Linked DNA regions of Homo sapiens: all the other regions are linked to region 4. The links come from fine-mapping of genetic effects on gene expression. A gene starts in region 4. Each other region holds a variant in brackets. All regions are shown on one strand. Distances are from middle to middle. Region 1 overlaps GFAP (glial fibrillary acidic protein). Region 2 overlaps SLC4A1 (solute carrier family 4 member 1 (Diego blood group)). Region 3 overlaps GPATCH8 (G-patch domain containing 8). Region 4 holds the start of SLC25A39 (solute carrier family 25 member 39).

What was found. PIP is the estimated chance that this variant, and not a neighbour inherited with it, causes the effect. A credible set is the group of variants that fine-mapping cannot tell apart.
Region 1: its variant is the best candidate, but not a certain one, in a credible set for the expression of SLC25A39 in gastroesophageal junction (GTEx, PIP 0.81).
Region 2: its variant is the best candidate, but not a certain one, in a credible set for the expression of SLC25A39 in B cells (Fairfax 2012, PIP 0.70).
Region 3: its variant is the best candidate, but not a certain one, in a credible set for the expression of SLC25A39 in lung (GTEx, PIP 0.85).

The regions. Positions count from the first base shown.
Region 1 is chr17:44,907,660-44,912,849 of GRCh38, forward strand. It overlaps GFAP (glial fibrillary acidic protein), which reads right to left. Exons shown (of 9, transcript NM_002055.5): 5 at 4,013-4,138; 6 at 3,577-3,797; 7 at 2,956-2,999; 8 at 405-490. Among named protein-coding and RNA genes, the nearest start is that of GFAP, 5.2 kb to the right of the region's middle. RefSeq lists an enhancer at 3,527-3,636 and a silencer at 3,847-3,916. The variant G/A (reference allele first, on the strand shown) is at 2,485.
Region 2 is chr17:44,247,338-44,252,337 of GRCh38, forward strand. It overlaps SLC4A1 (solute carrier family 4 member 1 (Diego blood group)), which reads right to left. Exons shown (of 20, transcript NM_000342.4): 18 at 4,082-4,251; 19 at 3,822-3,995; 20 at 1,053-3,201. The coding sequence ends at 3,121. Among named protein-coding and RNA genes, the nearest start is that of SLC4A1, 18 kb to the right of the region's middle. The variant G/T (reference allele first, on the strand shown) is at 2,788.
Region 3 is chr17:44,418,458-44,423,647 of GRCh38, forward strand. The region is part of intron 6 of GPATCH8 (G-patch domain containing 8); the gene reads right to left. Among named protein-coding and RNA genes, the nearest start is that of ITGA2B, 31 kb to the left of the region's middle. RefSeq lists an enhancer at 2,726-3,699. The variant C/T (reference allele first, on the strand shown) is at 3,182.
Region 4 is chr17:44,321,958-44,327,147 of GRCh38, forward strand. It overlaps SLC25A39 (solute carrier family 25 member 39), which reads right to left and starts at 2,866. Exons shown (of 12, transcript NM_001143780.3): 1 at 2,754-2,866; 2 at 1,521-1,620; 3 at 1,327-1,386; 4 at 851-895; 5 at 462-595. The coding sequence starts at 1,605. It overlaps LOC124904009 (a long non-coding RNA gene), which reads left to right and starts at 3,496. Exons shown (of 2, transcript XR_007065768.1): 1 at 3,496-3,664; 2 at 4,985-5,190. RefSeq lists silencers at 2,409-2,628, 2,649-3,078, enhancers at 3,179-3,368, 3,529-3,608, 3,659-3,718, 3,789-4,640, 3,899-3,948 and 1 more and a cis regulatory region at 4,613-5,190.

The DNA of each region.
Region 1 (5,190 bases), 590 kb after region 4:
CCCTCTTCCCATTCCCCTGGTAGTTTCCTTTTACCAAGCTGGAAATGGAAAGCCCTCCCCATCCCCAACTGTGTCTGCTAGAGTTGGAAGTGAAAGCTACTAACTTTAATTCTCTTTCTCTCCCTGGCAAGCAAGGCCCCCGAGTTTGAGGGTGAGAAAGAGAGAGTGTGTATTAGGATCCCATCTAGTGGCTTTGGTACCAAGGCTCCCCTTAGAACAGCCTATGGAGGGACTGAGGAAACGGAATTACATTCAGTTTCCTTGCTCTCCTCCAGAATTCCCTGGGGAGCTACTGGGAGTTGCTGGGAACCTTCTATGTGCCAGCCCCAGGCTTTCCTCCATGGCCTGGCCTTGAGAATCCCTGGGGCCAGCCAGAGCCTGACTGGGCCCAAATCCCTCCTTACCTCTCCATCCCGCATCTCCACGGTCTTCACCACGATGTTCCTCTTGAGGTGGCCTTCTGACACAGACTTGGTGTCCAGGCTGGTTTCTGCAGATGTGGGGAGAGGAGGCCTCTCATGGACTTTCAGGGCATGAGCCATCCTCTCCCATGCCCGGCTTCCCCATCGCACCCCCCTCCCCATCATGAGTATGAGAACCTATGCAACCGAGCAGAGAGAGCCTAGGCTCTTCCAAACGGGCTGGAGAGCCCCCAAATCCCAATAGTGCTGCTGCCAGAGTCCTGGCTGCTCTGTCTTCTGGCCTGGCTTCATTTCAGCCCCTCTGCAAGCCCTGGCCTGGCACCTGGCTTTCTGAAAACCCAGCACGGTATTGAAATCAGGAGACCAGGAGGGGTGCGGTGGCTCACACCTATAATGCCATCATTTTGGGAGGCTGAGGCAGGTGGATCACCTGACGCCAGGAGTTCGAGACCAGCCTGGCCAACATAGTGAAACCTCTACTAAAAATACAAAAAATAGGCCAGGCATGGTGGCTCACACCTGTAATCCCAGCACTTTGGGAGGCCGAGGCAGGTGGATCGCCTGAGGTCAGGAGTTTGAGACCAGCCTGACTAATATGGTGAAACCCTGTCTCTACTAAAAATACAAAAATTAGTCAGGCATGGTGACAGGTGCCTGTAGTCCCAGCTACTCAGGAGGCTGAGAGAGGAGAATCACTTGAACCTGGGAGGCGGAGGTTGCAGTAAGCTGCGATCGTGCCACTGCACTCCAGCCTGAGCAACAGAGTAAGACTCCGTCGAAAGCAGGCAAGCAAGCAAGCAAGCAAGCAGGAAAGAGAAAGGAAGGAAGGAAGGAAGGAAGGAAGAAAGAAAGAAAGAAAGAAAAAGAAAGATTAGCCAGGTGTGGTGGCTCGCACCTGTAATCCCCTTACTCGGGAGTCTGAGGCACGAGAATTGCTTGAACCTGGGAGGTGGAGGTTGCAGTGAGCCAAGATTGCACTACTGCATTCCAGCCTGAGTGACAGAGGGACGCTCTGCCGAAGGAAGGAAGGAAAGAAGGAAGGAAGGAAGAAAAGAAGGAAGGAAGGAAGGAAGGATCAGGAGACCAGAGCTCAAGAAGTCCCAACTTAGCCACCAACCAGCCACATGACTCTGGGCAAGTTAATTGACCTCTCCCAGCCTCAGTTTCCTCATCTGTAAAATAAGGATGATGGGGCCTACTTCTCTAGGTGGGAGAGAGGAGACAATTAACTAAAATAAAGGCTGTTAAACATGTGGCACATATTAGTGCTCAATACACATAGGTCCCTTTCCTGTCCCCTTTCCTCTTTCCTACTTCTCTCTGCCATTTATCTGTGCTTTAGTGACCTGTGACTATCTAGGATTTGGCAGTATTACCTCTACTAGTCAGCCTGGTTAGCCTTTCTGATGCTGAATTAAGTCCTGAGACATGCATATCTAGTGGTCCTAAATATTCTAGTCCAGAAGAAGAGGAATTTTGTTCCTTAGCTAAGAATCATTTCAGGGCCAATGCAAGTAAAAAGTAATTTAGCTCCCCCCTCCCCCCGCCCCGCCCGAGAGAGAAAAATATAACACGTCACATTCACTAATATTTAACATTAAGAGCAGGGAACATAAAACTTTATTCACTGCAAGAGCTGCGGTCCTGAGGGAAGAATCCTCTGAACTGAGTCAGCACTGAGCTGAGCGATGGAGCCTCAGGGATGAAAGAATAAAGCAGAGAGCCTGGCGTCCAGGCACAGCGAGACCCAAGGGGCCCTCCCAGTGACAGGAAGAGGTGAGACAGAGGCTGCTGCTTGCTCAGAGGCCCCAGAGCAGCTCCACTGCGCACCCAAGGACTCACCACCTTTACCACTAACAAGCTCTGCCAGTTTAATGTACAGTTACTCTGTACCACGTCCTGGGCTGGGCACTGCAGTTCCTGGGAAAATGACGCAGTCCAGGCCCTTTAGGGGAAGCCTGGGAAGAGGGAACTCAGGGGGATTGGGAGGATGGGGTGGGTGAGGCTCACTCCCTGTCAAGCTGGGCAAAGCGCCGTGTCTGAGAGGCAGGCAGCTAACCGC[G/A]AGCCGGCGGCGTTCCATTTACAATCTGGTGAGCCTGTATTGGTATAACTCGTATTGTGAGGCTTTTGAGATATCTTGTGACCTTGTGATTTTCCCCGTCTTTGGTGCTTTTGCCCCCTGTAGTGACAAGCAGTTAAAAAAACAAAAACAGAAAACACTCAGAAGGGCAGTGCTTGCTCAGGGATCTGCAGACAGGGCAGATGTCAAGCTCTCACCCAGTTCTGCTGTCGAATGGGGTGCAGGGAGGGGAAGAGGGACCAGGGCCTAGCAGGACAGGGGCAGCTGCAAGCCCCACCTAGAAGTACCCTGGTATGATAGGCTCTGGCTAGGAGCGCTGCAGTGTCACGAAGGCCCCCAGGGAGAGCTGGATCCCTTTGCCCTGATCCTCAGTCCCAGTCTGGAGCAACCTACAGGCCCTGGAGGAGGGGGCAGGACTCCAGTGCCCTTCCCACGAGGCCCTGCTGTACTGACCTCGAATCTGCAGGTTGGAGAAGGTCTGCACGGGAATGGTGATCCTGAAAGAAAGCAGAGGGAGAGGGCTGCCCGGGCTGCCTGGGACACCCCTAGGCTGGGTCTTGGTGCGGGGCCATCATGACAACTTGAACGCCCTTTTCCTTGCCAGGAAAGTCTAACTCCATCTCCTAGCTTTTTCCCCAGCAGCCAACGTGCTATCTGGAGTTCCAAACGTCTGCAAGGGGCTTGAGTGTTATCTGGGAGGGGCGCATGTCTATCTGAAGGAAGATGGAAAAGGGAGGGGAAAGTGGTGAAGAAAGTTCCAAGGAGGCAGAAGAGATGGGTGAGGTGAGGAGTCCAATCTTGGCTGGGAAGATGGGGAGTATGCCTCTTAGTTTGGAGGGTGACCCAAGTCCTTGGCCTTGAGGCCTAATCAATATTGGTTGAATCCATCCATCCATTCAGTCATCAAACATCTAGTGACTGCCTGCTATGTGTGAGGCAGGCACTGTGCTGGGCATTGAGGTGGGAAGGGATCTGCACACAAGGCTGAAAAAGACTCAGTCCCTGAAGGGAGCAAGATGAGCTCTACCGTGAGGCAGCAGGGAGACTTCCCCAGGGGCTGTGATGAGGGCTCACCGGTTCTCCTCGCCCTCTAGCAGCTTCCTGTAGGTGGCGATCTCGATGTCCAGGGCCAGCTTGACATTGAGCAGGTCCTGGTACTCCTGCAAGTGGCGGGCCATCTCGTCCTTGAGGCTCTGCCCCTCTTCCTCCAGCCGCGCCAGCGCCTCCTGATAACTGGCCGCCTCCCGCACGTGCCGCTCCTCCTGCTCGCGCATCTGCCTCTCCAGGGACTCGTTCTGTGGGATGGAGCCGGCCGGTCCCGCGGAGCCCCGACCCGACTTGGGGAGGTTTCGAGGCCCGGCCCCCGGCCCCAGGCCCCGCCTCTAGCCCGGGGGTAACGTTCAGGCCCCGCCCTCGACCCAGGTCCTCGTCCCTGGCCCTTCTCCCCTGGCATCTCCTGGGGTGGCCGTCCCTGCTCCGCCCGTCCCCGTCCTGCCCTGGCCGCGCTCACCGTGCCGCGCAGAGACTCCAGGTCGCAGGTCAAGGACTGCAACTGGCGCCGGTAGTCGTTGGCTTCGTGCTTGGCCTGGCGGAGCAGCTCCGCGTTGCGGGCAGCAGCGTCTGTCAGGTCTGCAAACTAGGTGGGGGACACATATGGGGGGCTGTGTGGGCCCATGGGCAGGCACGGGCTCTGGGAAATCAGGGAGGTGAGCAGCACCCCAGTTAACCCCAGGACGTTGGCCCTGGCTGGGACTTTTCCCAACAACTGTGACCCATGGATGCGGGCAGGGTAGCGGGCTGCCAGACCTCAGCACCTAGCACAACACCTGGTCAGCAAGCGAATGAATGAACAGTGCCACAGAATCCAGAACCTTCCACACTGACAGCTGCATCTGCGGGACTGAACGCTGTCGTCTTAGGCGAGCGGAGGCCTGGGTGTTTTGTGTGTTTTTGTTTTTTTGTTTTTTTTGTTTTATTTTGAGACAGAGTCTTGCTCTTGTCGCCCAGGTTGGAAGTCAGTGGCACAATCCCGGGTCACTGCAACCTCTGCCTCCCAGGTTCAAGCAATTCTCCTGCCCCAGCCACCTGAGTAGCTGGGATTACAGGCATGCGCCACTACACCCGGCTGATTTTGTATTTTTAGTAGAGACGGGGTTTCACCATGTTGACCAGGCTAGTCTTGAACTGCTGACCTCAGGTGATCCGCATGCCTCGGCCTCCCAAAGTGCTGGGATTACAGGTGTGAGCCACCTCGCCTGGCCTCACCCTGGGTTCTAATAGCCCTTTCTCCCCTGCCTGCAGGGAGGTCCTCCCAGCCCCATCGGGCCCTCACCCTGCTCAGACACCAGTGGCTTCTGCCACTCACACTCCTCAGCTAGGTGCCCTGGCTAGGCTAGCATCTTGGGGCCCTGCCTCTCTGTGCTTTTCTGCCTCCAGGCTCTGTCCTCCACTAGGAATGGCCCTCCCTTCTTCTCTTCCTGTCCACAGCGTGCCTGTCCTGCCTAGCCCAAATGCCCCCTCTACAGTGTCTTTCCTGGCTCCCACACTACATATAAGCTCTGAGCTGTGGTGTTCTCTACGGGCACTATGTTTGGGTGCACGTCAATATCACACCTTCCAGGTCAGACACCTCTCTGTGTCCTGGGGGGTGCCTGGCATATGGTAGAGGCTCAGTAACCCAAAACAGAC
Region 2 (5,000 bases), 75 kb before region 4:
AGGCAGCATTTATTCCCCTAAGTCCAGATATGATGAGCTGGAAAAGGATGGAAAGGATCCTTTTCCAGGCGATGGAAAGGATCTACCAGGAAGAATTAGCCCAGTAGAAAACGGAGACCCAGAGAGGGGACTGGCTTTTCCCAGGTTGCACAGCCAGCCTGTGGAAGAGGCCTGGGGATGCCGGTGGCCTGAGCTCTCTTCAGGCTTGTCTCATAGCCTGACTTCTGGGTACATGGACGTGGGGAATGGAGGGTCTGGCAAGCCCTGGGGACAGGGCCAGGGCTGTGGGGATCTGCAGCTGCTGTGTGTGGGAGGTGGACGCTGGGACGGCTCTCCCCTGGCAGAGTTAGCTCTCTGACCCTTTGGCAGCTGCCCTGGCTAGCCTGGGAGGGGTCAGCTGGGGATAGGCAGTAAATATAGATCTAGGGCAGGAAGCCAGGCGGCCCAGCCCTGCACTGACCTCTCGTTGGAAGTCTAGGGAGGGCAGATGTCCAGTCCTGGAACCCTCCTCTCCCGGGGTGGGGGACACCTAGCCCAGCAACACCCTAGAATTGCTGGAAGTGGTTGGGGGTAGGGGACAGAGCCTCCAAAGGGGACCAGGATGAGGGTAAGCAGAAAGCTGGCCAGGAGACGCTGTGCCTGTGTGGCCATGTGCCCTCTCTGGGCCTCTGTTTTCTTCTCTGGTCATCTCTGTCAAAGGTGCTGTCCAGCTTCCCGGTAAGGGGTCCACTGATCTAAAGGGAATTGGGGGCTCACAAGTATAAGGAGCAGGGGGCAAGGTCCCCTTACAGTCCCTCCTCCCACCCCCACAGGTCTTGCTTATTCAGGAGAGGAAGGAGTCTCAGAGCATAATCTCATCTCTTGCTCCCTACCCACTCTCTGGGTGCTGGCCTCCCACCCTAGGGCTCAGGGTCACACCTCAGCCTGGCTCCCCTTGCTGCATAGATGCAGCCCTGTGCCAGGCCCGTGCCACACACACCATGCCCACCTAGTTCAGCCAAGACCCCCGGGACCCCCGACTCTGGGAACGGGAATTCAGGCAAGGCAGCCACTCCAACACAGATACGTTTATTGGCAAAACCTATTCCCAGGCATCAAGGGGAAGGGTGCTAGCAGAGTGAATAATTTTTGTTTTTCACTTTCCTTGGCCATGTTCAAGGAGCAAGGGGAGGGGGAGACAGGGACATCCCAGTCAAGATAAGGAGGATCCCAGCAGCTCCCCTCCGAGGTTGGGCTCTTCACCAACCAAGGCCTTTTCTTGCACTGTCTCCTTTAATCCTTATAACAACACTGCAAGGTAGGTACCATTATCATCCCCATTTTACAGACGAGGAAACTGAACTGTAGCATGGGCGAAGTGGTGAAAGGTGGGTGTCAGCTTTCAGGGACAGGAGAGCCTCCCATGGACTGAGCTAGCCTGGGAGGTACAAATAATGTTACTCTATGTTGGGCTGGAACCCCACCACACACACATGTTGAGTCTGTGGCCCCCAAGGCTGATGTTTCCTTCCGTTTTTTTTTTTTTTTTTTTTTTTTTTTTGAGACAGGGTCTCGCTCTGTTGCCCAGGCTGGAGTGCAGTGGTGCAATCTTGGCTCACTGCAACCTCCACCTCCTGGGTTCAGGTGATTCTCTTGCCTCAGCCTTCTAAGTAGCTGGGATTACAGGTGCCTGCCACGAGACACCCAGCTAATTTTTGTATTTTTAGTAGTAACGGGGTTTCACCATGTTGGCCAGGCTGGTCTCAAACTCCTGACCTCAAATGATCCGCCCAACTTGGCCTCCCAAAGTGCTGGGATTACAAACGTGAGCCACTGCGCCCAGCCACCTCCTCTCTTTTCTACCACTTCCTGATTCTGTTTCCTCCATCTCTCACCACTTTCACGTCTTTCAACTCTTTTTATCTTTTTGTTTTATAAAAAAATAAATTTGCCCATGTTCTTGGAGAGCCTGCTGTCTCCTACCCCAATTGGTCAGATCTGGGTTCTCCCCAAGATTCAGTTTAGATGGAGTTGAGGATAATGGCTCTCAAATGAGGGGCCTGAAGTTGTGTGTGAAGCCAAACTATGTTGAAAACTCTTAGAAAATACGCAATTAATAAATTACAAACCCCCTCACTCTCCCGCCCCTACCTTCCCACCCTCCCCCACTCCCTATCCAAATGTAGAATCAACTGTACCTTGCCCCCCACCCCCACCCCAGGGCAGGGCTTGTCTCAGTCCCCTCGGAGTCCACTGATTCCGGGGCCCTCAGTAAATGTTTGTGGAATGAATGAATGAGTGAACTAATGAGTGTTTGGAGGGAGGAACCAAACACTTAGGAGGCCTGAGTCCCAGGCCCAATCCCTGGATCATCCTTGCCTGTACCTTGTCCTCACCAGGACGCCTCTCTCTGGGCCCAGAGAAGAGGGTCTCAAGGTAGGGGCTGGGAGCAGAGTGGGGAAGGGAGGAGTCACAGGGGAAGGGAAAGTGGACGCATGACTGACAGAGGACAGAGCTCGGACCTTGAAATCAGAAGGCCTGGTTCAAATCCCAGCTGCACGGCTCAGTTCAAATCCCAGCTATGTGACCTTGGGTACGTTCAAAGACAAATGATGACTGCTATAGAACAGTCCCTGTGGAGTTTACAAAGCCCTATTTTACATGTATCTTTGGTCCTCAGTAACCATCCTGTAATGTGGGTATTATCATCAATATACCCATTTTACAGAAGAGGAAATATAGGCTGGAAAGGTCAAGGGACTTGCCCAAGGTCACACAGCAAGCACCCCACCCGCTCACCCACCTCCT[G/T]CCTTTGCTTCTACCCCTGCCTGTGCTGGGAAGAGGGAGGGCTCAGATCTAAGTCTTCCAGCACGGGATCCCCAGTGAAAGTGTGGCAACAGGAGGGACTGTGCAACAAACCCCCTAATGTGGGCCCCATCGGCCATCCCCAGCCAGAAAAGCCAGGCTACCCTTTGTGGAAGGTCTCCTGGACACGCCTTCCTTCCCCACCCACAGCCCTGGGGCCTCAGCTGCTGCTCCAGGAGGATCCTGGAGTCCATGAGGTGCCCATGAACTTCTGCTTTTCCTTGGAAGGTGGGGATGTGGAATGGTGGGGGAGGGTCTAGGGCCTGGGCCCGCCCCTCACACAGGCATGGCCACTTCGTCGTATTCATCCCGACCTTCCTCCTCATCAAAGGTTGCCTTGGCATCATCAGCATCCAGCTGGAGGGGAGGGACAGGAGAGAGACAGGGTGAGAGACCCTGGGGCCAGAAGAGCCCTCCCCGGGCACGAAAGGCACCTCTGGAGTTAGGAGAGGGTCTGGCTGTCTTGAACCTTGGACCAGTCCTGTTTTATCTCCCCAGCAGCTAGGACTGGCCTAAATGAGTCGTTGTCAAAGTGAGAGGCAACCCCGGGGATGTGGACCCTGGCAGGGGAGGGCCTGCAGAGGGTGAGCAGGGGACCTTTTCACCAAGGCGGCCCCACAGTGACCTGAGTCACCCTGTGGAAGAATCCTATTAGAGGAGTGACTCTGTCCCAAATGACTCGGAAGACGGCAGGACTTGCTGCTTAGGGGTCCAGCTCACTCACAGCACACCCTGTCTGCCTCTTGACGCTCTCCCCAGTCGTGCCATCATTTCCCCCTTTACAGGTGAGCAAAATGAAGACACAGAGAAACAAGGCCCCGTGCTCCAGATCATATGCTAGGACACAGCAGGCCAGAACCTGGACACCAGCCCTAGCCCCAGACTTTACCCATGACTCTGTCCTGCCTGCCCTAGTTCTGAGACGCGCCCCTCGCATGCTCCCAGCTCTTGTGCCCCAGGCCCAGGCAGCCACTCACACACTGAAGCTCCACGTTCCTGAAGATGAGCGGCAGCAGGACGCGCCGCAGCGGCACAGTGAGGATGAGGACGAAGGGCAGGGCCAGGGAGGCCGGCGTGGACTTCACCACCCACAGCACTGCCAGGCAGATGATCTGGATGCCCGTGAATAAGTGCATGCGCCAGGTCTTCACCTGCAGGCGGAGGCTGGGGTCAGTGCCTATCACACCCCAGCACCCTCTACCACCCCAGGCTGGGCAGCCAGAAAAGGGTCCTGTACCCGCTTGACGTAGGGCACATCTGGGTGATACTTGGGTGGCTTGAACAGAAGCAAGATGCGGTCAAAGAGCTGGATGCCGCTGAGCGACGTGACCCCCATGTAGAGGAAGATGCCAAACAGTACAGCCAGGGGGATGCGGGACAGGATGGGCTCCATGAGGATGGACAGGCCTGTGGGGGAGCCGCACACTCTCAGCCCAGGTTGCCCGAGGCCTGGCACCAGTGGGGGGTCAGGCCCCTATCTGGGGCTGGGAATAAAACACAGGCACCATATGGAGCCATTTCTTTTTTCCTTTTCTTTTCTTTTTTTTTTTTTTTTTTTGTTTTTTTTTTTGAGACAGGATCTCGCTCTGTCACCCAAGCCAGAGTGCAGTAGTGTGATCTCGGCTCACAACAGACTTAACCTCCTGATCCCAAGTGATCCTCCCGCTTCAGTGTCCCTAGTTGCTGGAACTACAGGCACATACAACCACACCTGGATCATTTTTTTTTTTTTTAATTTTTAGTAGAGACAAGGTCTCACTATGTTGCCCAGGCTAGTCTTGAACTCCTGGGCTCAAGTGATTCTCCTGCCTTGGCCTCCCAAAGTGTTGAGATCCCACGCCTGGCCTGGAGCTATTCCTATGGGTCTTTTTTTTTTTTTTTTTTTTTTTTTTGAGGCGGAGTCTCACTCTGTTGCCCAGGCTGGAGTGCAGTGGTGCAATCTCAGCTCACTTCAACCTCCGCCTCCTGGGTTCAAGCAATTCTCCTGCCTCAGCCTCCCAAGTAGCTGGGATTATAGGCGTGCGACACCACGCCCAGCTGATTTTGTAATTTTAGTAGAGACGTGGTTTCACCATGTTGGACAGGGTGACCCACCTGCCTCAGTCTCCCAAAGTGCTGGGATTACAGGCGTGAGCCACAACCCCCGGCCTCTATCG
Region 3 (5,190 bases), 96 kb after region 4:
TTTTTTTTTTTTTTTGAGATGGAGTCTTGCTCTGTCGCCCAGGCTGGAGTGCAGTGGCATGATCTTGGCTCACTGCAACTTCCACCTCCCGGATTCAGGCAATTCTCCTGCCTCAGCCTCCCCAGTAGCTGGGACTACAGGCACGTGCTGCCACGCCCGGCTTTTTTGTATTTTTAGTAGAGAGGGGTTTTCACCATGTTAGCCAGGATGGTCTCGATCTCCTGACCTTGTGATCCGCCAGCCTCGGCCTCCCAAAGTGCTGGGATTACAGGCGTGAGCCACCGCGCCCGGCTAGTCAGTGCTAATGTCTATTGAGCATTCAGGTGTTATCAGAATTAACTCATGTAAAAAGGAATCATATATTGGATTTCTTCAGAAATGGAAAGGCCTACTCTTAGAGATTTCAAAATGTATTAACATCGATCACTTGAAAACTAGGGTTAAACTACTGAAAAGAGCCAAAATACTTAATCAGCTTCTGTATCTCTGAAGATCAAGCTGGGTCTTAATATTTTTGTGTTAACAACTCTTCGTAAAATCTTGGAAAACCTGAGAAAAACTAGTGAATATAAAGAGGCACATAACACCCCCGCATCCTGTCAGGAAAAAAACAACTCAAACCTTGAATGAGGGTGACCATATAGCTCCTTTTGGAGAGATTATTTGTGCTTATTAAAGAGAAGGGTATGTTTAGGATCCTGCCTCTACTATAGTTTACTACTAACGTAATACATTATTTCTCTGAAAAATATTAATGGTGAAAATCTGATAGAAGATGCAAACTAGGGATTGCTAATACAGGGTTGAAAGTACTTACCTATTATCTCAGATTCATAATAATCCTGTGTGCCTTCCTGGAAGACAAGACAGGGTGTCTTTATGATTTTAGAGCATGAATTTGGAAAAATGGTAGGTCCATTTGTATGTTAAGTTCATGTCCATCAAAGAGGAATGAAAAATATGTCCTTCCTCCTGTTAGGGGTTATGTGGCTGTGTTGTACCAAGGTCAATTAAAGATTCCTTAGAAATTATTTTTTTTTGTTGTCCGAGACAGGGTCTTGCTCTGTCACCCAGGCTAGGGTATAGTGGCATGATCACAGCTTATTGCAACCTCAAACTCCTGGGCTCAAGCGATCCTCCTGGCTTAGCCTCACAAGTAGCTCGGACTTACACTACATGTGCGTGTCACCACATCAGGGTAATTTTTTTTTTTTTTTTAGAGAGACAGAGTCTTGCTCTGTCACCCAGGCTGAGGTGCAGTGGCACGAGCATAGCTCACTGCAGCCTTGAACTCCTGGCCTCAACAGATCTTCCTGCCTCAGCCTCCTCAGTAGCTGGGATTATAGGCATGAGCCACTGCACCCAGTGGGTTCCTCAGACATTCCAAGTTCAGGGAAGAGACGAACTATGAAAAATTTAGTGCTGTGCTTCTTTTGTTTATATATTTATAACATTCTGTTTTGAGATCCTACTGTTTGCATTAGAACAGCAGTATGAAGAAAGGTGAAAAAGCCTACCTTTCAAGCAAATGAAGAACATTTCACCAAAAACCAAAACCAAAACCAAACTTGTACTACATGGTTTTTTTTTTTTTTAATGCGTAAGATGAGCTTTTAAGATGAAGAAATAAACTCACATGCATTCATTCATCATACCAGCTAAAGATTTTTCCTAGACCAGGGATCACAGATATATATTCTGTATTAGTGAACAGGCAGTCCATGAGTTCTCCATGGGTAACCCTTAATTTTGTATTTTTATTTTGATGGTACTCTAAAGAAGAGTAATAAGTGAATATTCTGGATCACCTAGATGAGCACTTTATAAATGTTTACAACATAACTTGGGACTTAAAATGACAATAATTTGTTTGTACTAAGGTCAAATGACACCACAATATCATATATATACGAAAGTTTTTAATTAATTCTGATAGAATAGGGTTTTCAACTGCAGCACTATTAACTGCCATTTTGCCTCTTTGTTTCAAGGAGCTTTTCTGTGCATTGTAGATGTTACCAGCATTGCTGGCCTCAACCTACTAGATGCCAGTAGTATCACACCCTTAGTTGGGACAACCAAAAATGTACAGAGGCATTGCCAAGTGCCTCCAGAGTGACAAAATCTCCCTAGTTTGAGAGCAAATGCAATAGAGAAAAGTGGTGGGAGAGCTGAGGTAACACAAGGTGTGCAGGAGAATAAACATGTCAAATTCAAATGAACCAAAGATGTAACAATTTCTACTACATTCAGGTTGAGGACAGTGTCACTAAAACATTATCATACAACACATTAATGCTGTCAATGTGAATTTTATTACATTGTAAATCTGTTTTGCTTTTTTTCCCTTAAAAGGCAAGTCTATACATTATTGAAGTTTGAATTATACTTTTTCCTGGTTTACTTTTTTCTTTATTTTTGAGATGGAGTCTTGCTCTGTCACTTAGGCTGGAGTGCAGTGGTGCCATCTTGGCTCACTGCAACCTCCACCTCCCAGACTCAAGCAATTCTCCTGCCTCGAGCAGCTGGGACTACTAGCCAGGCCACCACGCCTGGCTAATTTTTTTTATTTTTAGTAGAGACGGGGTTTCACCAAGTTGGACAGGCTGGTCTTGAACTCCTGACCTCAACTGATCTGCCCGCCTTGGCCTTCCAAAGTGCTGGGATTATACTGTGTGAGCCACCACACCCAGCCTATTGTTTTCTAGTTAAAACTTTTTTTTCTTTACAAAAATTAGCCGGGCGTGGTGGCGCATGCCTGTAATTCCAGCTACTCTGGGGGCTGAGGCAGGAGAATCGCTTGAACCCAGGAGGCGGAGGTTGCAGTGAGCCGAGATCGCGCCATTGCACTTCAGCCTGGGCAACAAGAGTGAAACTCCATCTCAAGAAAAACAAACAAACAAAAAAACCTTTTTTTTCTTTTCTTGAGATGGAGTCTCGCTCTGTCACCCAGGCTGGAGTGCAGTGGCACGATCTCGGCTCACTATAACCTCTGCCTCCCGGATTCAAGTGATTCTCTTGCCTCAGCCTCCTGAGAAGCTGGGACTACAGGTGCACACTACCATGCCCAGCTAATTTTTGTATTTTCAATGGAGATGGGGTTTCGCCATGTTGGCCAGGCTGGTCTGGAACTCCTGACCTCAGGTGAACTCCCCCTCAGCTTCCCAAAGTGCTGGGATTA[C/T]AGGCACGAGCCACCGCACCTGGCCTCTTTTCTAGTTAAAACTTGACTCTGAAGTCATCGACTAGTGTGTAACCTTTCTTTCTTTTTCTTTTTTCTTTTTTTTTTTGAGACAGGGTCTTGCTCTGTCACCCAGGCTGAAGTACAGCGACATGATCTTGCCTCACCACAAAATCCGCCTCCCAGGTTCAGGCAATTCTCGTGCCTCGAACCCCCAAGCAGCTGGGATTACAGGCGTGCACCACCATGCCTGGCTAATTTTTGTAGTTTTAGTAGAGACAGGGTTTTGCTATGTTGGCCAGGCTGGTCTCGAATTGGCTTCATGTGACTCTGTCCATCTCAGCCTCCCAAAGTGCTGGGATTATAGGCATGAGCCACTGCACCTGGCCTAACCTTTCTAATGCCATTTTTCCACCTAAAATATCTTTTCTGTTAATATATCACAGATATTTCTTAATTGAAAAAATTCTCAAGAACCCCAAAACTTGAGTATATACTTAGATACTAAATGTCTTAATTAAATAAAGATAATCTGAAAGAGTTTTTTATTTGTTTTGTTTTTTTGAGACAAGGTCTTGCTCTGTTGCCCAGTGTGAAGTGCAGTGGCATGATCATGGCTCACTGCAACCTCAAACTCCTGGGCTCAAGCGATTCTAACACCTCGGCTTCTGGAGTAGCTGCGATTACACATGTGCCACCACACCCAGCTAATTACATTTTTTGTAATTAGCTTAGATTGGGGGGCAGGTCTTGTACATTGCTCAGGGTGGTCTCGAACTCCTGGGCTCAAGTGATCCTCCTGCCCTGGCTTTGCAAAGTGCTGCGATTACAGGTGCGAGCCACCGTGCCTAGCCTAAAATTTTTTTTTTTTTGAGACGGAGTCTTGCTCTGTCACCCAGGCTGGAGTGCAGTGGTGCGATCTCGGCTCACTGCAAGCTCCGCCTCCCGGGTTCACGCCATTCTCCTGCCTCAGCCTCTCCGAGTAGCTGGGACTACAGGCGCTCGCTACCAGGCCCGGCTAATTTTTTGTATTTTTAGTAGAGACAGGGTTTCACCGTGGTCTTGATCTCCTGACCTCGTGATCCGCCCGCCTCGGCCTCCCAAAGTGCTGGGATTACAAGCGTGAGCCACCGCACCCGGCCGGCCTAACATTTTTAAATTATAAATACTTTGAAAAACTGGAAAAGGTCCTGGATAGAAGTATTCACTGTTGAATTTTTCTTTCCTGAAAAACCAGTCTTTGAAAGAGTAAAAAAGTAACTGCCAATACAGCTTGTCTATATATATATGCTCTATAAATTTCTCTTCTTCGAATCAAGCAAAGCTGACAATGTATTAAAAGAATGTCCACGGCCGGGCGCAGTGGCTCACACCTGTAATCCCAGCACTTTGGGAGGCCGAGGTGGGCGGATCACGAGGTCAGGAGTTCGCCCCATCTCTACTAAAAATACAAAAATTAGCTGGGCATGGTGGCAGGCACCTGTAATCCCAGCTACTCAGGAGGCTGAGGCAGGAGAATCACTTGAAACCAGAAGGTGGAGGTTGCAGTGAGCTGAGATCCACCACTGCACTCCAGCTTGGGCGAAAGAGCAAAACTCCGTCTCAAAAAAACAGAAAAGAATGTCCAAAGGTATGTAGTAAGTTGAAAAGCTGTCTTGAATACAAGTCCATTAGTGGAAGAATCTTAAATTGGTTAGGTATATTTAAATGGGGGAGACTGTTCCAAAAAAGTGTAATACCACAACCAGCTTACAAATTCTTCCAGTTCTAGTAAGAATAAAACTTGGTCAAAGATTGCCTTTTACCTGTGCACTGAAATCTTATGGTTGGTGGAAGATGAAGGCTAAAAAAAAATCTTAGTTCAACAAGTCCAGCTTAGGAGACATCATTCCAATGCTCATAAATTTACAAGTTTAACAAATACAACTATTGTACCCCCCAAAAACCTAGTAAGTTATGTTAAAGTCACCCAAGATCAAATGGCTTGAAATTCTTTAACAAGCCAGAACTGT
Region 4 (5,190 bases):
TATGGAGGCCAGGCACGGTGGCTCACATATGTAATCCCAGCCAGCACTTTGGGAGGCCAAGGCGGATAAATCACTTGAGGCAGGAGTTCGAGACCAGCCTGGCCAACACGGCAAAACCCTGTCTCTACTAAAAATACAAAAATTAGCGGCAGGTGGTGGTGCACGCTTGTAATCCCAGCTACTTCGGAGGCTGAGACAGGAGAACCACTTGAACCCAGGAGACAGAGGTTGCAGTGAGCTGAGATCACACCACCGCACTCCAGCCTGGGTGACAGAGCGAGACTCTGTCTAAAAGAAAACAAACACCCCATGGAGGTACTGCCTTCTCCGGAAGCACTTCCTGACGGAACCGGCTACCTCTGCGTGCCTTGCCCAATCCCTTTACTCCTGGGTCTGCTGCCCAGCCAGACCGAACTCCTCACGGACACCGACGAATCCCTACGGACCCAGCTGCTCCTCACCATGGTGCCAGTGAAGCGGGTAGGGTCTTGAAACCAGGTGGCACAGCGGGCACCATTTGGGCACAGGTACAGAGGCTCCAGGACACCATTGCAATACAGGAGGCACTTCCCTGTGGATTGGAGAGAGGAGGGCACTGGGGAAAGGCAGGGGGCATTATAATGACAGGATCCTAGAACCTTGCAGGGAGGCAGTGGGCCCCTATCCCTGGAAGGCCAGTAAAGGCCAGGTCCCTGTGTGGATGTTCTGGTGCAGGTCACAGGACTGGCTGGCAGGACCTGGGAGTATATGCTAGTCCATGGCTGTGGAGCCCACTGGTGCCCTGGGGACAGGGACAAGGACTGTCTCCCCCTTGCACCCTCCCATGCTCCCTGTGGCTTGGGGCACTCACATTTGGTATAGGAGAGGCTCCACAGTCTGGAGGAAGGCATCAGCTCTAAAATACAAGGCAGCCCCTCAAGTCAGGAGAGCCCCCACCCGCCCTAGGGACCCCATCTCTGGGAGATCTTTTTATTTTATTTTTTGAGATGGAGTCTTGCTCTGTCGCCCACCCTGGAGCATAGTGGCACAATCTCAGCTCACTGCAACCTCCACCTTCCCGGTTCAAGCGATTCTCCTGCCTCAGCCTCCCAGGTAGCTGGGACTACAGGCGCATGCCACCAAGCCCGGCTAATTTTTGTAGTTTTAGTAGTGAGAGAGTTTCACCACGTTGGCCAGGCTGGCCTTGAACTCCTGATCTCAGGTGATCCACCCACCTCAGCCTCCCAAAGCGCTGGGATTACAGGTATGAGAAACCACGGCCAGCCTCTGGGAGATCTTTCTTTTGCCCAGGCACCACCCCTCACTAGTTCCAGGTCAGGTACTCACCGCTGGCCATGGAGGGCCGCTGAGACTGCAGGCGAACCTTCACCACGTCCAGGGGTGTCACTGGGGGAGGAAGCGGGTCTGAAGGCTCCTTTCAGGACCCCACCCCTAGGACTCCTCCCCCAGGACCACACAGCCTCCAATCTCCGGTCTGCCCCATCCCCACCCGCCCCCACCCCACCTCCCCTAGGTCTTACTGAAGAGAGAGGTAACCACAGCCCCGGTGCCTGAGGCCACCATTTGCTGGAGGGGGCTGATGCCCGCAGGGTCCTGGTCAGCCATCTTGAAGCTTCAGTCCTGAAAACCAAACCTCAAACAGACCACAACTCCAGGGATGGCAGGAAAGGAGGCTGGGCCACTGTGAGACTTTTGTTTTGAGACGGCGTCTCGCTCTGCGCACTGTTGCCAGGCTGGAGTGCAGTGGCACCATCTTGGCTCACTGCAACATCCACCCCCGTTCAAGCGGTTCTCTTGCTTCAGCCTCCCAAGTAGCTGGGACTACAGGCGCGCACCACCACGCCTAGTTAATTTTTGCATTTTTAGTAGAGACAGGGTTTCACCATGTTGGCCAAGATGATCTCGATCTCCTGACCTCGTGATCCGCCCGCCTCAGCCTCCCAAAGCACTGGGATTACAGGCGTGAGCCACCGCACCCGGCCCACTGTGAGACTTTAACCCAACCCTCATCCACCGCCCTCGAAACATCTGTTGCCTCAACAACCCTGGCAATGACCTCTAAAGCAGGGACTGTCCGCCCCCCTCCGCCGGGGAAAACTAAGGCTCGGGGAGACGAGGTGGCCTGCCCAAGGTCACTCAGGAGTGGTTCCGAAGGAAGCTAGGGTGCCAGACCTATCGCTCGAATGCAGTAGGAGCCAGGGTCCTTCCCTCGTCCACCTCGCACGTGTCCACTGCGCACCTCCTACGTGCAGGCGCGGATTTGGCCCTCGTGGCCCCAAAATCAGAGTACCTGTGCTGCCCCCACAGCCCCCACTCCAGCACCAAGGCCCCGGGCAGGCACCTGAGAGCCCAAGTTACTGGGCGTGGAGGGACGGCCGGGCATCGAGGGTGACGTGTAAACAGATCCGGTGACCAAGAAGGGCCCGTCGCCTCCTCAGGACTGCGGGCTGGGATGCCCGGCCCTCCCCGCCCGGCCGGACGGGCCAGACCCGGGGCCCGGAGAGAAAGAGCAGTCTCTGGGTTCCCGCCCCAAAATGCAGGCCCGGGGCGCAGCCGGGAGAGCGGGAAGTAGGAACGTAGGACCAGGACGTCTCCCCGACCCTCGGCGACACTCCCGGCCCCGAACGGCGGAGAGCCGCCAGGTGAGGGGGACCACGCCAGCTCGACGGCCCCAGCACCTGCCCTGGCTCGCACGGCCGCCCGGAGACCCCCGCTTCCGTCTCCGCCCCCAGCCCCGGCCCAGTGCCGCCTACCTGGCTCTAGGCTGGTGCTCGTGCGGCGCGGCGCCCAGGGTCAGGCGGGCCCATACCGGCTCCGCCGCCTGTGCGCGGTCCGCGCGCGCTCGCAGCGCACCTAGGCCGACGCCGAAAGCAGCCAAGGGGGCCCCGCCCCTACACCGCGCCACGAGGCCCCGCCCGCCGCGGGCCGACCAGCCGCAAGCCCGGAGTGTCCCCGGCTCCGCCCACTCGCGTCTCCGCCCGGACCTGCGACGGTCCCGCCCCCTTGACGGGGCCGCGCGGGCGAGTTCCATGCCTGTCCAGCGCTGAGAGCTGCCGGCCAACTTCGCGGTCTCCACGTCGCGCTTAACGTGGCAGCAGCACGCACTTCCAGCATCTTTTTTTAGACAGCATCTTTTTCAGCCTCGCTCTGTCGCCGAGGCTGGAGGGCAGTGGCGCGATCTAGGCTCACTGCAGCCTTGACCTCCCGGGTTCAAGCGATCCTCCTGCCTCAGCCTCCGGAGTAGCTGGGACCACAGGCGCGCGCCGCCACGCCCGGCTGGTTTGTTACTTTTATTTTTGTCTCCCTATTTTGCCCAGGCTAGTCTGGAACTCCTGGGCTCAAGCGATCCGCCCACCTCGGTCTTCGAAAGTGCTGGGATTCCAGGCGTGAGCCGCCGCGCCGGCCTTAACAGCGCATTTTCACCAGCCCCGCCCCGGCCGCGCGCGGCACTGGAAACCCCAGCGCCTTCTGGACGGCGAGGGTGACGCACTGGCCCTCTTCCTCGGTGTCCTCAGGTGCGTGGCGGCGGCAGTGAGAATGAGTTCTTCGAGATCGCCGGGAGACCACACAATAACGACGAAGTTACTTGCCGGGCTACCCGCCGAGACTTGAAAACTTCGCGGCGACTTCTCTCGCCGGCCTTAGCATCGCCCCCATTTTTCAGGTTACAGGACAGGCCTGCAACTGCAAAACGCTTTGTAAACCACAGGGCCCCGCGCGGGTGTGCGCCACTGGGTTAGCTGAGCTGCAGCCCGGGCCGGGCGGGCTGGGACGTGAGCAAGCCGGGGGAGACGGGAGAGCCATGGGGAGCCAGATCCCACCTTCGCGTGACCTTGGGCAAATCACAACCTCGCCTAAGGCCCGGAATGACTCTGCGCGGAGAGGAAGAGCACTGAGTGCGGGAGGGCATCGACGTTTTGGTGTTGGTTGCTCTCGTATCGTGATTTCTTCTGAGTCTCAAAACTCTTTGCAGTAGGTTATTGTTGAAATAGATTACCACAGGCCGGGCGCGGTGGCTCACGCCTGTAATCCAGCACTTTAGGAGGCCGAGGCGGGCGGATCACTTGAAGTCAGGAGTTCGAGACCAGCCTGGCCAACATGGTGAAACCCCGTCTCTACTAAAAATACAAAAGTAGCCGGGCATGATGGCTGGCGCCTGTAATCCCAGCTACTCGGGAGGCTGAGGCAGGAGAATCGCTTGAACCCGGCCGGCGGAGGTTGCAGTGAGCCGAGATCGCACCACTGCATTCCAGCCTGGGCAACAGAGTAACACTCCGTCTCAAAAAAAAAGGCCGGGCGCAGTGGCTTACGCCTGTAATCCCAGCCTTTTTGGAGGCCGAGGCGGGCGGATCACCAGAGGTCAGGAGTTCGAGAGCAGCCTGACCAACATGGTGAAACCTCGTCTCTACTAAAAATACAAAAAATTAGCCGGGCGTGGTGGCGCATGCCAGTAATCCCAGCCACTCGAGAGGCTGAGGCAGGAGAATCGCTTAAACCCGGAAGGCGGAGGTTGCGGTGAGCCGAGACTGCGCCATTGCACTCCAGCCTGGGCAACAAGAGCGAAACTCCGTCTGAAAAAGAAATAGATTACCCCGTTTTACAGAAAGTGAAACTGAGGCTCGACGTGAAGAGCCGGAGATTCGAACCGGCCGGGTGCTTTTCCCAGGGCTCCACACTGCCTCCCCGGGAGACAGGAAGGCTTAAGTCCAGCGCTGCCCTCTCCGATCCCGCTTGTCAGGGAGACACTTTATTTCCCGGGGCAGCCCCGTACCCCAGGCCCCACCACCCACTTCGCGTTTAGAACTTCTGTGCTATCTTGCTTATTTGTCCTAACAGAGAAACCAGCACGCGCGGGCGGTGGCGGAGGGGGGCGGGCGGGCGGGTGGAGGCGGGGGGGGGCGGGCGGGGAGATGGGTACTCCTAGCCTGCGCCTTTAAGAAGGGTAGGCCTCGACTTTGACGTCTCTGCCTTCCCCGCCCTTCAGGCCCCCACTGGTCGCGTCCGGCGCTGGAGGAGCCCAGTCAGCCGGCGCCTGCCGGGTTAGCACGTGGACTCCGAGGGGCCAACTATCAGCTTTCCCTGACAAAATGCCTTTGAGCTCCCCCACAGCTCTGAAACTCCAGCTTGGGAGCAGGGAGAGTGCAATCTGTGACCTGTAAAGGGGCGCTGGGCAAAAGGGCCCGAGAGAAG